Linked DNA regions of Homo sapiens. The protein of the gene in region 4 purifies or fractionates together with the protein of the main gene of each other region. This does not show direct contact. Each region holds a gene or a part of one and is shown on either strand. Other genes may lie near its edges. The genes, in order: MEIS3, ZNF276, MEIS1 and PBX4.

Region 1 (3,569 bases), about 28 Mb from region 4:
CAGGCCCCCACTGGATGGACCTGGGGTCCCCAAATGTACAGACCCACTATCCTCATGGTCTCGAATCCACATATTATTCTAGAAAACAAGAGTTAGAAGTTAGTGCCAAGGCGGCCGGGCGCAGTGGCTCACGCCTGTAATCCCAGCACTTTGGGAGGCCAAGGCAGGCAGATCACAAGGTCAAGAGATCAAGACCATCATGGCTAACATGGTGAAACCCCGTCTCTACTAAAAATACAAAAAATTAGCCGGGTGTGGTGGCATGCACCTGTAGTCCTAGCTACTCAGGAGGCTGAGGCAGGAGAATCGCTTGAACCCGGGAGGCAGAGGTTGCAGTGAGCCGAGATTGCGCCACTGCACTCCAGCCTGGGTGACAGAGCAAGACTCCGTGTCAAAAAAAAAAAAAAAGTTAGTGCCAAGGCTTTGGGCATGGACTCTGGAGCTAGGACTCCTGGATGGGAAGCCAGTCCCTGCCTCCTTCCTAGCTGTGTGATCTTGGGCAGGTCACTTCCCCACTCTGAGCCTCCGTTTCCTTAACTGGAAAATGAAGGACAGGACCAGGCACGGTGGCTCACGCCTGTAATGCCAGCACTTTTGGAGGCTGAGGCAGGCAGATCACCTGAGGTCGGGCATTTGAGACCAGCCTGGCCAACATGGTGAAACCCCATCTCTACTAAAAATACAAAAACCAGGCTGGCTTGGGCACAGTGGCTCACACCTATAATCCCAGCACTTTGGGAGGCCGAGGCAGGCGGATCACCTGAGGTCAGGAGTTGAAGACCAGCCTGGCCGACATGGTGAAACTTTGTCTCTACCAAAAATACAAAAATTAGCTGGGCATGATGGTGGGTTCCTGTAATCCCAGCTACTCGGGAGGCTGAGGCGGGAGAATCGCTTGAACCCGGGAGGGGGAGGTTGCAGTGAGCCAAGATTGTGCCACTGCACTCCAGCCTGGCCGGGGTGACAAAGTGAGACTACGTCTCAAAAAAAAAAAAAAAAGAAAAAGGAAAAGAAGGGCCGGGCGCGATGGCTCATGCCTGTAATCCCATCACTGTGGGAGGCCCAGGCGGGTAGATCACAAGGTCAGGAGATCGAGACCATCCTGGCTAACATGGTGAAACCCCGTCTCTACTAAAAATACAAAAAATTAGCTGGGCGTGGTGGTGGGCGCCTGTAGTCCCAGCTACTCGGGAGGCTGAGGCAGGAGAATGGCATGAACCTGGGAGGCAGAACTTGCAGTGAGCCGAGATCACACCAATGCACTCCAGCCTGGGTGACAGAGTGAGACTCCGTCTCAAAAAAAAGAAAAGGAAAATGAAGGACAATAATAGTCCTGACAGTGTGTGGCCAGTATTCAATGATGAGTTTGTCTACACAGGGGCTCAAACAAGATGACCTTACACAGGTCTATGGCATCTTATCTAAAATCCTTGGGGCAAGAAGTGTCTCAGGATTCCGAACATTTCACATTTTTATCTTTATTTTTAGTCAGTGTCTCACTCTGTCGCCCAGGCTGGAGTGTAGTTGCATGATCTAGGCTCAATGCAGCCTCTGCCTCCCAGGTTCACGTGATTCTCATGCCTCAGTCTCCCGAGTAGCTGGGATTACAGGTGCCTGCCACCACACCTGGCTAATTTTTGTATTTTTAGTAGAGACGGCGTTTCACCACATTGGCCAGGCTGGTCTCGAACTCCTGGGCTCAAGTGATCCACCCACTTCTGCCTCCCAAAGTCTTGGATAACAGGCGTGAGCCACTGCGCCAGGCCCATTTCACATTTCTAGGCAATAAATCAGCGCATACACCATGCAGTTCGCAACCATCCTAGGCAGGGTCTGGGGCACAACCTCGTCATCAAACTCATGAACATTTCCATAGCAACATGGATGAGTATTTAACTAAGTGGAATAAATAAAGGCTATAAATAGCCCCTCATTAGTTCAGGTCAGCTTTTGCTGCCAAATGAGTTTGCACTAAATTTATGGGACAAAATCCAAAACTTTGAAGTTTCAGAGATTCTGGGGTCTCAGAATTGTAGCTAAGGGGGTCTGGGGCTGTATTATCTTTTTCTTTTCTTTTTTTTTTTTTTTTGAGACGGAGTCTCGCCCTGTCCCCCAGGCTGGAGTGCAATGGCATGATCTCAGCTCACTGAAACCTATACCTCCTGGGTTCAGGCGATTCTCCTGCCTCAGCCTCCCGAGTAGCTGGGATTACAGGTGTGTGCCACCATGCCCGGCTAATTTTTTGTATCTCTAGTAGAGATGGGGTTTCACCATGTTGGCCAGGTTGGTCTCAAACTCCTGACCTTGTGATCCACCCCCCTCAGACTCACAAATCGCTGGGATTACAGGTGTGAGCCACCGTGCCCGGCCTTATCTTTTTTTTTTCTTTGAAGAGACAGAGTCTTGCTCTGTCACCTAGGCTGGAGTGCAGTGGTGCAATCTTAGCTCTCTGCAGCTTCAAACTCCTGGGCTTAAGCAATCCTCCCGCCTCAGCCTCCCAAGTAGCTGGAACTACAGTTGCGCCTGGCTAATTTTTCTTATTTTTTGTCGAGATGGGATTTCACAGTTTGTCCAGACTGCTCTCGAACTCCTGGGCTCAAGCAATCCTCCTGCCTCGACTTCCCAAAGTGCTGGGATTACAGCCATGAAGCCACTGCAGCCAGCCTCACAGTTTCTTTATGCAAACTCCAACACACTTTGAGGAACTCAACAATCGGGTAGGATTTACCCTCTACCCAGATCTGTGCCCCAGGAGGTCAGCTCACCCATATGGACTGCAGTAACAGTTCTTTGTTTTTCAGTTTAACGTTGGGTTAAATCTGCCAAGTGGTTTTAGATTAACTGTATTCTTCTACCAAAAATCTTAGCCGCTGTCAAGCAATCTGCTCCTCTCTCCAGTTCTGGTGACCACGCCTCCTCCCACCCTTCTTTTTTTTGAGACAGAGTATCACTCTGTCGCCCAGGCTAGAGTGCAGTGGCGAGATCTCGGCTCACTGCAGCTTCCGCCTCCCGGGTTCAAGTGATTCTCCTGCCTCAGCCTCCCAAGTAGATGGGACTACAGGCGCACGACATAACACCCAGCTAATTTGTTGTTGTTTGTTTGTTTTTTTGAGACAGAGTCTTGCCCTGTCACCCAGGCTGAAGTGCAATAGCGCGATCTTGGCTCACTGCAACCTTCGCCTCCCGGGTTCAAGCAATTCTCCTGCCTCAGCCTCCTGAGTAGCTGGGATCAGAGGTGCGTGCCACCACGCCTGTCTAATTTTTTGTTTTTTTTATGTTTAGTAGAGACGGGGTTTCACCATGTTGGCCTGGCTGGTCTCAAACTCCTGACCTCGTGATCTGCCCACCTCAGCCTCCCAAAGTGCTGGGATTACAGTCGTGAGCCACTGCACCTGGCCTAAGTTTTGTATTTTTAGTAGAGCCGGGTTTTTGCCATGTTGGCCAGGCTGGTCTTGAACTCCTGACCTCAGATGATCTGCTCACCTCGGCCTCCCAAAGTACTGGGATTACAGGCATGAGCCACTGCGCCCAGCCATCACCAGTCTACATTTTCCTTTCTGTGACTGCAG
Region 2 (2,958 bases), on a different chromosome or scaffold from region 4:
TAATTGATTCCTTTCCCCACTAAAGCAGTCGAGGAGATTTGTAATCCACTTTTTAGTGCAACAAGAGCTCCATGTTATGCTTGTAATAAATTATTTACACGGGAGCTGGGCTGGTGTGCAGTGGCAGGTCCCGTCAGAAGAGATGAGGCTCCTGGGACAGGTCAGCGTCAGGGGCAGCCTGCTGTCTGCTCTGGAGGGCGGCGCTCACCTCTGGGTCGCAGTCCCCACGATCAGCCAGCAGCTGTGAGAGAGGAGCAGGTCCTCAGCCCATGCCGCCCACTAGGCCTCAGACCACAGGGGAGGGGCTCTGGCAGAAATAGTCGAGTTGTATTGCCAGCCAGGCAGGCACATGGCCCAGGCAGCTGTCAATTCTCATGTCCCCCACATGGCCCAAGGTGGGCATCTTGACGTTACCTCTGCCACGTGTGAGAAGCTCTTTTTCGGGCACCGAGGTATTAACTGCAGCAGAAAAAGACGAGCTTTTGTTATCAGTTCCACGGGGTTGCCCTAGAGAGAAAACAGGCAAACTCACAGGTTAGAAGACATACAGAAACAGGGCTGGTGTGTCCCCCATAGTCTGCATGCTGTGCCGGAACATTCTTTGGCAGAAGGAGCCTCCGGCTGGGGGGAGCTCCCCTGGAGGTGGGACTGGCCCTTGCACCTGCCTGACCCTTGAGCTCCAGGCTCCTGCCAGCTGGAGGTGAAACTGTGCTTGTATCCCCAGCCACGAAGAGCTGGACCAGCTTCAAGTACATGTCCACAGCAACATGCAGGAAGGCCTCTTCCCTGATGGCCGCGTCTTCATGGAAGTAGGAGAGAAGACTAGAGGTAAAGACATAGTGACAAATGGCTACAGACTGCTGGAAAGGTAGCAGGTGATGCCAAGGGATACTGCTCATCTGTGGAGCAGAGGCACAGACAACCCTTCCCATCTGGCGGGACCCAGAGGTGCTGAGATGGGGGTCTGGGAAACACTGCCCAGCCCTGACCAGCCCTGTGGGTGGAGGTACCTGTAAAAAGCGAAAGGCAGCAGCCTGGTGTGCTGATCCGGGGCCACACGGAGGAGGAGCCGCCCCAGCCTGAGGTCTGCAACACCAAGAAGTGGCTCAGGCAACTCTGGACATCTCTGCCTATTATCAGTGCTGGGGACACCCCTGGGGGTCGGGACGTGTACCCTGGGAGGCCTGGCTGTGGGGATAGTGTGGGGCGAACAGCCTGAGCTGAGGATACCCAGGTACCTGTCAGCAGCTGGGAGAGGATGGGGGGGTCGACCTCTTGCAGGAGGGTGGGTGTGGTGCAGAGAGAGGCAGTCCCCATGATAGGCCCATTGGTCCTGGGGTTGACCAGTGAGCCAGTAAATTATCTTATTGCTTTAAACAAGTTTGTGCTTAATCTGTCCCAACTAAAATGGAGCTTATAAACTTACTTAGCAAGGAACCTCAAGGAGGGCTCGTTCTTAACCATTTGCAAGATGCCTCTGAAAAGAGCGGCCCTCCGCATTTGTGCCTCAGCAGCGTGTTTCTTACCACTCTCTGTCAACTGAAAGAGTGCCAGCCAGGATATCTTCCTCTTCTCTAAACACTCGAGGATTGCTGCACAAACGTGGAAAGCCTTTGGCAGGTCTGTGGTGCTCTGTAAACCGCAGGAGACCAACCCTGAGAATGGCCGACCTGGTGCTCCCATGGGTAGGAGGGTACAGCCCTCAGCACAGAAGAGGGCATTTCCTCTTTGCTTATTGTAAGTCTTAAAACTGGTGACAGTTTTACCTATAGAAGGTAATACTGGGCCTCTGGACAGAAGAGGCTCAGGTAGGAGGCCAGGGACTTCGAGCACCCACACCAAGGCTGCTGCACCACGTCCTCAAATAAGACATTAAAAGAAAGGCCCACAGGCCGGATGCAGTGGCTCATGCCTGTAATCCCAACACTTTGGGAGGCCGAGGTCGGCGGATCACTGAGGCCAGTTCAAGACCAGCCTGGCAATATGGTGAAACCCCGTCTCTACTAAAAATACAAAAATTAGCCGGGTGTGACAGACTCACGCCTGTAATCCCAGCTACTCGGGAGGCTGATGCAGGAGAATTGCTTGAACCCAGGAGGCTGAGGTTGCAGTGAGCTGAGATCACACCACTGCACTCCAGCCTGGGTGACAGAGTGAGACCCCCATCTCAAAAAAAAAAAAAAAAAACCCACGGCCTGGGAGTTCTCACTCACACTTCCGCAAACACAAGGAGCTCCTGAGCTAGTCTGGAAACCCTGACTTGGAAGCTGGCTGCCTGGTGCCCCTGCCTGGCCCACAGTGGGAGAGGACACCTTGGCTGGTAAGGTCTGACTTACATTTGAGGTCAGATGTGACGACAGCAGGCCCATCAAGGAGAAGAAGAAAAGGAAAACCAATAGCTGTAAATAAAAACGTGCACTTATTATTACATTAAAATTACCTGTGCTGTCATTCTAAATAAGGCTGACACATTCCTCTTTAATTGAAATTTTTTACATCTAGGCCATAAATCCTTTAAGTGGATCTTAGAAAACTTTCCAATCACTTCTAGAGAGACAGCTTAATTGAGAATTAATTACTACTGGCTGGGTCATTTCACACTTGCCTTTAAACAAAGCTAGAAACAGTTTGAAAAAGTGACAAGAGCCAGAAAGAGAAGACTGCTGCGGTCTCCTTGGCTGTGCGCAGTCCCAACTCAGCATCATCTCCCTGCAAGGCCTCCTGTCAGAAGTGTTTGTAAAATCCTTGAAGATAAGCCCACAGGCTCCAGCCTAAAGTAGGGCCTGACTGGGCAGGGTCTCTGTGGACACTCCTCGCTGCACACTAGGGTCCTAAGGCCCTGGAGCCACTAAAATCCCTTCTAACAAAACTACACAAGAAACCTGAAGACGTACTCAGAAGAACCCCTGCAGGGTGGTTATAATCACCAAAACCCTGGGCGCTGCTGTCGATCCAGCT
Region 3 (3,569 bases), on a different chromosome or scaffold from region 4:
TTGTTATGAAACGAAACTGGTTTAATTTTAATTGCCAGGCGTTCCTATACTCACTCCCAGTTTATTTACCAGGTAGCGGACCTCCCGGTGAATGGCTTGAGGATGGTTTTCGCTTGCGTGACTTGAATACAGTCACTATGGGGGACTTGCCTGCTCGGTTGGACTGGTCTATCATGGGCTGCACTATTCTTCTCCGGGCATTAATAAACCTGTAACCAAGAAAGTGAAACAAATCGTTATTCCTTAAAAATAAAAGGGGGGGTTGAGGAAGAGGAAAAGATGAATCGCAGTTGGAGTAAAACTAGATCTTGGCAAAATGGGACTCCTTCAGTTCTCTCCATTGCTCTATGTGCAGCCTCACGTGCTGGAAAACCTGTAACCCCCAGTGACCTTTGAGTACACAGGCTTGGGGTTTCTGAGTTGATTTATGTTTGCCTGTTTTACCACAGTTGGACACTTCCATTTCATCTTTTCATGGGGGAATTAGCAGAGTTTTCAGGAAACAATACTAGCCACCACTCCTTTCATTTGCAAAGAGAGAAAATTGGTGTAAAGAGTTAGATGCTCATAAGGGCATCTGTTACCTCTCCTAATTAGTGACATTTCAATCTTATGTTCTCTGACTTCTTTTGTACAATTTTTATCAAAACCACCCCTACCTCTTGCAAACCTAATTCTATTTTAATGCCCACTATTAAGATAATGAACTGGGATGGCAGCACACCATCAAATGAGAGAATGTCTGGAGTTTATCACCACTAACTCACACTGCTTAGGACTTCAGAGAAATGCATTCCTTGTAGAGATTTCTTGGGGTGGCTTTTTTTGTTGTTGTTGTTTTTTTTTTTTTTGCTCTTTATGTAAAGTCTGAGGTCAAGGCAAGGTCACAGATATACAGTAATTGAACTTATAGTTTTGCTTTCTCCAGCTAGTACTGAAAATTTATAAACATCTTATTAAGGCACTTAAGTTACTTTAAGTGCCTTAATAAGATAGTTTTGTACAATTATTTTTGTAGCCTCTCCAAAAGTGACAAGTCACTGACATGTAAAAAAGTATTAATATACGCTCTCCAGAGTCATACGCATGAGATTCTCTTAAGATCCGTTTGTTCTGCATAATATTAAAAATTACGTATCAAATCCAGAAAATGAAGAGGACATATTAGATTCTGAAATAGTAAATTCCTTTTAGTTCCCAACTCAGATCAAATCTGAGCAGGACATAAAAAATACAATGAAAAGTTTAATAAGGCTCTATTAATGATTAAAGGATCCATAGTCCAGTATGAATTCTAGTTTGTAAATCTGCCCACTTCAGGAAGGAAAATAGTTCCTAAAAACCAAACCATTAAACAGACAGGGACAGGTTTTCAAAACAAAAATGCATACTTCATAACATTTTAAGATTCTCAATATCCTGTATCCTTGTGTTCTTTCATTATCTGAGAAGTAATTGAAACAAATAATGAAACTAGAATCTAACTAAAAGGTATACTGTTTGTGCTAATTCTTGTTGGCAATACATATTATATCAGTTCTTGTATATGAAGTCCCTGAACTGCTAATAAAAATATTTAAAACACAGGTCTACAACAAATTGTGTTGCAAATCAGGTTATCATTATCTTGTATAAACCATGAAAACTGGAATCATGTGAGCAGAAGGTTAGATTAATTCTCCATTCTCATTATAAGCACAGGTGTAGCACAAACACCATGTGAAATAACCAATTAAAATGAAAAAAAATCTGTTTTTTCATTAGCTGCCTTCACTGCATGACCAATTAGAAAATTATTTAATATTAATATTCTGCATATACCAAAAGTAATTTTCATAGTAACTAATGTAGGTAAGAGAGCAAAAACATCTCTTTATCTATGGTACTGTTCATTATCTGCAGACTCTTAGAGGGAAGGAATTCTGTCTATTAACTTTCTTTTTCCAGACTTTTTAAAAACATAATCTTTTATGGATGTGACTTATACTACTTACCTAAAAATAGGAAGAGACATTTTTAACAGATGAGAAGCCTGGGCTCAGAGAAATTAGGTGACTTCTTTGAGGTCACATGTTACCAAAGAGATGTTAATAATTTGCTAAATGACACACAGCTGTCAGTGGTAGCAAGCACCCTCCTCCCTGGTGCTCTGGCACAGTGACTAGAGCACCGCAACTATAGTGCCACTCATCTAGAATATCCAGACTAAATAGATATATAAAAATTAGCTGGTTTCAAGCCAATTACCACTGGCAGCAACCCCAGTGTTTAGTCAAGGAAGAAGCATGACTGTGAACATTTTGTAAATTGAAAATTTTGATGGCTGCACTGTTTGTGTGTATAGGCAAAGATAAGGCTATTCAAAGAGAGAGAGAGAGAGTGAATACAGTGACTTGATTTATCTGTATTCCAAAACTTGTCTCCATCATATTCACATATTGAGACTCCCATAAACTAATTCATAATAATCAACTCAGGTTTGAGTCTATGACTATTAAAGTCGTGAGTTCATTTTTAAAAATTACACCTCAGGTTTCAAAAGGGCTGTAATGGTCACTTCGTTTGGTCACTGACATGAATCCCCTATATGATATCTGTCCCCCAAAAGTACATAGGTAACCTCTGCTGAACTAATACAGCACTCACCACCTTACTTAAGAGGCCACCCCATCTATAAACAAGGCTGTTAGAAGGTTCTGCCTTACTAGATCAAAAATATTTATGTTGGTGCAAAAGTAATTGCGGTCTTGCCATTACTTTCAGTGGCAAAAACAACAATTACAGGGGGAGGGGGAAGGGATAGCATTAGGAGATATACCTAATGTAAATGACGAGTTAATGGGGGCAGCACACCAACATGGCACATGTATACATATGTAACAAACCTGCACGTTGTGCACATGTACCCTAGAACTTAAAGTATAATTAAAAAAAAAAAAAACAATTACTTTTGCACCCAACCTAATAGTTTTATCAGCACAACTCCTTGGGGTACTGTAAGCAATTCTAATTTTACTTCCACAGGATAGCCCTTCAAATAGTTAAACATAGCCATTATGCTTTATAGCCTTCTCCCCTCTAATCCTTAGGTTAAACATTAGTGATTCTTAAAAAGTGCCTGCTAGAATGTGAGTCCTTCTAGGATATTGAGTCCATTCAATACCTGGACCACTCTCTGCTCAGTAGGCTGATCTTTGTCTATGTCCTCCTGAAGCCTTGCAGTGGACAACACCAACGACATTTATTCCAGGCCTGCTCTGATCCCCAGGTAGAAAGCAAATACACACAAAAAATACCACAGCCTCTTAGCCAACTGCCCACAGGTACTAGATGTTATTTGCTTCTTTTTGGTGGCAAGAACTGTTTGTTGTTATTAAGAACACAGATGTCAGCTACCCCTAGAATGTGTAGATATCAAAGGGGGAAACCTTTAATTAAAAAATAAAACATAAACAAAAACACTGAAAACCTGAGAAAAACTAATCACCTTTTCTGAGCTGTTTGACCACATTAGTAGGTCTACCTGCAACTTCTTACTTGTGAAACATTTAATTTAAAAAATTCAATAT
Region 4 (3,569 bases):
GCTAGTTTTGTATTTTTAGTAGAGATGGGGTTTCACCGTGTTGGCCAGGCTGGTCACAAATTCCTGACCTTAGGTGATCTGCCTACCTCAGCCTCCCAAAGTGCTGGGATTACAGGCGTGAACTACTGTGCCTGGCCTGTTCTTCAATGAATTTTTAACAAATTTGGCCGATATTTATCGGACCTTTACAATATCTGGGTACTGAACTGGGTTCTGGCATAGCTCTCAAGTTCTTCCTGCTCTCAAGTTCATGGTTTGGGGAGAGAAAGTAAATTTGTTCTTCAAACTTTCTTTCCTTTGCTTCTCAGGGAATGTTGACACTTTTTGTAGTTTCAGATGCTCTGTTTGAGAAATTAGAGTCCTTGTCACCATACAACTATTTCTTTGGCTTTTTTTTTTTTATATAAGGCCGCGCTCTGTCACCCAGGCTAGAGTGCAGTAGTGTCATCATGACTCACTGCAGCCTCAACCTTCTGGGCCCAAGCAATCTTCACACCTCAGCTTCTTGAGTAGCTAGGACCACAGGCCTGTGCCACCACGCCTGGCTAATCTTTCTTTTTTTTTTTTTTTTTTTTTTTTTTGGAGACAGGGTCTCACTCTGTCACCCAGACTGGAGTGCAGTGGTGCAGTCTCAGCTCACTGCAACCTCTGCCTCCCAGGCTCAAGCAATTCTCCTGCCTCAGCCTCCTGAGTAGCTGGGATTACAGGCGTGTGCCACTACCGCCTGGCTAATTTTTTTTTGTATTTTTAGTAGAGACAGGGTTTCACCGTATTGGCTAGGCTGGTGTTGAACTCCTGACCTCAAATGATCCACCCACCTCGGCCTCCCAAAGTGCTGGGATTACAGCCCTGAGCCACCACACCTGGACTAATCTTTCTATTTTTTTAGGTCTCCCTATGTTGGCCAGGCTGGTCTCAAACTCCTGAGTTAAGAAATCCTCCCGCCTCAGCCTTCCAAAGGTCGAGGATTTCAAACATGAGCCACTGAGCCTGGCTCCTCCAACTGTTTTCATTGTGGTTTTTTGTTTGTTTGTTTGTTTTTGTTTGTTTGTTTGGCTGTTTTTTGGTTTGGTTTGGGTTTTTTTGAGACGGAGTCTCATACTCTGTTGTCCAGGCTGGAGTGCAGTGGCGCGATCAGGCTGGAGTGCAGTGGCGCGATCTCGGCTAGTGAGCAACCTCCGCCTCCCGGGTTCAAGTGATTCTCCCATCTCAGTTTCCCAAGTAGCTGGGATTACAGGTGTGCACCACCACACCTGGCTAGTTTTTTGTATTTTTAATAGAGATGGGGTTTCACCATGTTGGCCAGGCTGGTCTCAAACTCCCGACCTCAGATGATCTACCCGCCTTGGCCTCTCAAAGTGTTGGGATTACAGGCGTGAGCCACTGCGCCGGGCCATGTTTGTTTGTTTGTTTTTGAGACAGGGTCTTATTCTGTCACCCAGGCTGGAGTGCTGTGGTATGATCTCAACTCACTACAACCTCTGCTTCCCAGGTTCAAGTGATTCTCCAGCCTCAGTCTCCCAAGTAGCTGGGACTACAGCCTCAAACCACCAATGAATGGCTGGCTAATTTTTGTATTTTTTGTGGAGATGGGGTTTCACCATGTTGTCCAGGCTGGTCTTGAACTCCTGAGCTCAAGTGATTCACCCATCTTGGCCTCCCAGAGTGCTGGGATGACAGACGTGAACCAGTGTTTTTATTCTTTTTGGAGCATTGTACCAGGTGCTAGAGAAACCAAGATGGCTAAGATGTTCTCTGCCTTCTTGGAGCCCACTGAGAAGTAGGGTGTGTGGGAGACCAACTTGTAAATAATTGTTATAACAGGAATGTGCTGTGTAGAGGTAATTCCTAGCACAGAAGAGCTGTGCCAGGAGAGGGTGCCTTCCGTGATGTCTGTTAGGCTAGTCGGAGAGCAGTGGCTTTATTATACTTTGTGTTCCCAGAGCCAGGATCAATGCCTAGCACCTTGCATTCAGTAGTTTCATGACACTGAGGAGATTCTAGAGGGATTAGTAGGAGTTGGGAAAGGGGGAAGATGGTTTTGACACACCCAGGAATGTCACCGCAGAGGCAGAGCTTTGGGTGTGTCCTGGAAGCTACTTTTGTACTTTCCAGACCGGGATATTGCTGCTTAAGGGGTGAGCTCTGCTCAGATGTGGCCTTCCTCAGGCCCAGCACAGCCCCAGGGCTGCTGCATTTTCCTTGCAGCAATCTCCTGAGATTCTAGTTTCCCTAGACAGGCTTTAGATTTAGAATGGAATGCAGCCAGTTACTTTTTTTTTTTTTTTTTTTTTTTTTTTTGAGACAGAGTCTCGCTCTGGCGTGTTCTTGGCTCACTGCAACTTCTGCCTCCTGGGTTCAAGAGATTCTCCTGCCTCAGCCTCCCGAGTAGCTAAGATTACAGGCGCCTGCCACCACGCCCGGCTAATTTTGGTATTTTTTTAGTAGAGACGGGGTTTTGCCATGTTGGCCAGGCTGCTCTCAAACTCCTGACCTCAGGTGATCCTCCCACCTCGGCCTCCCAAAGTGCTGGGATTACAGGCATAAACCACCACGCCCTGCCAGCCAGTTACTTCTTTACCATTTTCAAAGATAGCTCTTTTTGTTTTAAGGCTAAGAAATTAGGCTGGGTGCAGTGGCTCACGCCTGTAATCCCAGCACTTTGGGAGGCCGAGGCAGGAGGATCACCTGAGCTCAGGACTTCGAGACCAGCCTGTGCAACGTGGAGAAACCCCACCTCTACTAAAAATACAAAAATTAGCTGGGCATGATGATGCCCACCTGTAGTATGTGTCAGCTACTGAGGAGGCTGAGGCAGGAGAACCGATTGAACCCTGGAGACGGAGGTTGCAGTGAGCCGAGATCGTGCCACTGCACTCCAGCCTGGATGACAGAGAAAAAAAAAAAAGAAATTAAATGGTGTGGTGGGGGGCGTTATTCATGCTTGATAACACAGGTGTTAGGTAGCTGGTTCCTGGTTTCTGGCCTCTTTCTGAATTGGGATGACCCCCGGGGCTTTTATTTCGAGACTTTGAAGCTTCAAATCTCCCTCATTTCTTTGGACCTAGCCTTTAGATGAACTCAAAGCCCTAAAGTTCACTCAAGTCCAGACAAAAATCATCCATCCTCAAATGGGCTATTTCCACCCCTCTGGAGGAAATACAGCTCCTCACAGTAAACCCTGCAGCCTGGTAGATTACCAACCTGGGCTGGGAAGCAGATTGTCTCTTCTGATCAACTGATCCTGTGAGGCTTTTGAAAATCTTTCTGATCCTGCCCACTCTCAATGTGCCAGTCACCCCTTTTATCACCCCAGCAGTCAGTTGAACTCAACTGTTTAGCAAGAAGGAATTTTTCATCTCAGTCGTGAGGCCCTCTGAACATGTTTTGTTGCCGTAAGTTTGTTTTCAGAAGGAAAATATAGCTCTCTCTTCAAACCTGGGTTTTTTGTTTTGTTTTGTTTTTTTCTTGAGACAGAGTCTCACTCTGTTGCCCTCGCTGGGATACAGTGGTGCGATCTCAGTTCACTGCAACCCTCGTCTCATGGGTTCAAGCAATTCTGCCTCAGC

Evidence for each region.
Region 1: the proteins of PBX4 (region 4) and MEIS3 purify together in Homo sapiens (affinity purification with mass spectrometry; one large-scale study listed by BioGRID and IntAct). This does not show direct contact.
Region 2: the proteins of PBX4 (region 4) and ZNF276 purify together in Homo sapiens (affinity purification with mass spectrometry; one large-scale study listed by BioGRID and IntAct). This does not show direct contact.
Region 3: the proteins of PBX4 (region 4) and MEIS1 purify together in Homo sapiens (affinity purification with mass spectrometry; one large-scale study listed by BioGRID and IntAct). This does not show direct contact.

Annotation. Positions count from the first base shown.
Region 1 is NC_000019.10:47,409,470-47,413,038, forward strand, and holds part of MEIS3 (homeobox protein Meis3), read right to left. Parts: intron 79-3,569; coding exon 1-78. UniProt on the Homo sapiens protein: Transcriptional regulator which directly modulates PDPK1 expression, thus promoting survival of pancreatic beta-cells. Also regulates expression of NDFIP1, BNIP3, and CCNG1.
Region 2 is NC_000016.10:89,738,468-89,741,425, forward strand, and holds the end of ZNF276 (zinc finger protein 276), read left to right. Parts: 3' UTR 1-133; coding exon of another isoform or gene 134-241; 3' UTR 242-414; coding exon of another isoform or gene 415-507; 3' UTR 508-661; coding exon of another isoform or gene 662-822; 3' UTR 823-1,010; coding exon of another isoform or gene 1,011-1,086; 3' UTR 1,087-1,526; coding exon of another isoform or gene 1,527-1,632; 3' UTR 1,633-2,336; coding exon of another isoform or gene 2,337-2,399; 3' UTR 2,400-2,458; downstream 2,459-2,958. Other genes in the region: FANCA (Fanconi anemia group A protein), read right to left, coding at 134-241, 415-507, 666-822, 1,011-1,086, 1,527-1,632, 2,337-2,399. UniProt on the Homo sapiens protein: May be involved in transcriptional regulation.
Region 3 is NC_000002.12:66,564,093-66,567,661, reverse strand, and holds part of MEIS1 (homeobox protein Meis1), read right to left. Parts: intron 210-3,569; coding exon 151-209; intron 1-150. UniProt on the Homo sapiens protein: Acts as a transcriptional regulator of PAX6. Acts as a transcriptional activator of PF4 in complex with PBX1 or PBX2. Required for hematopoiesis, megakaryocyte lineage development and vascular patterning.
Region 4 is NC_000019.10:19,612,178-19,615,746, reverse strand, and holds part of PBX4 (pre-B-cell leukemia transcription factor 4), read left to right. Parts: intron 1-3,569.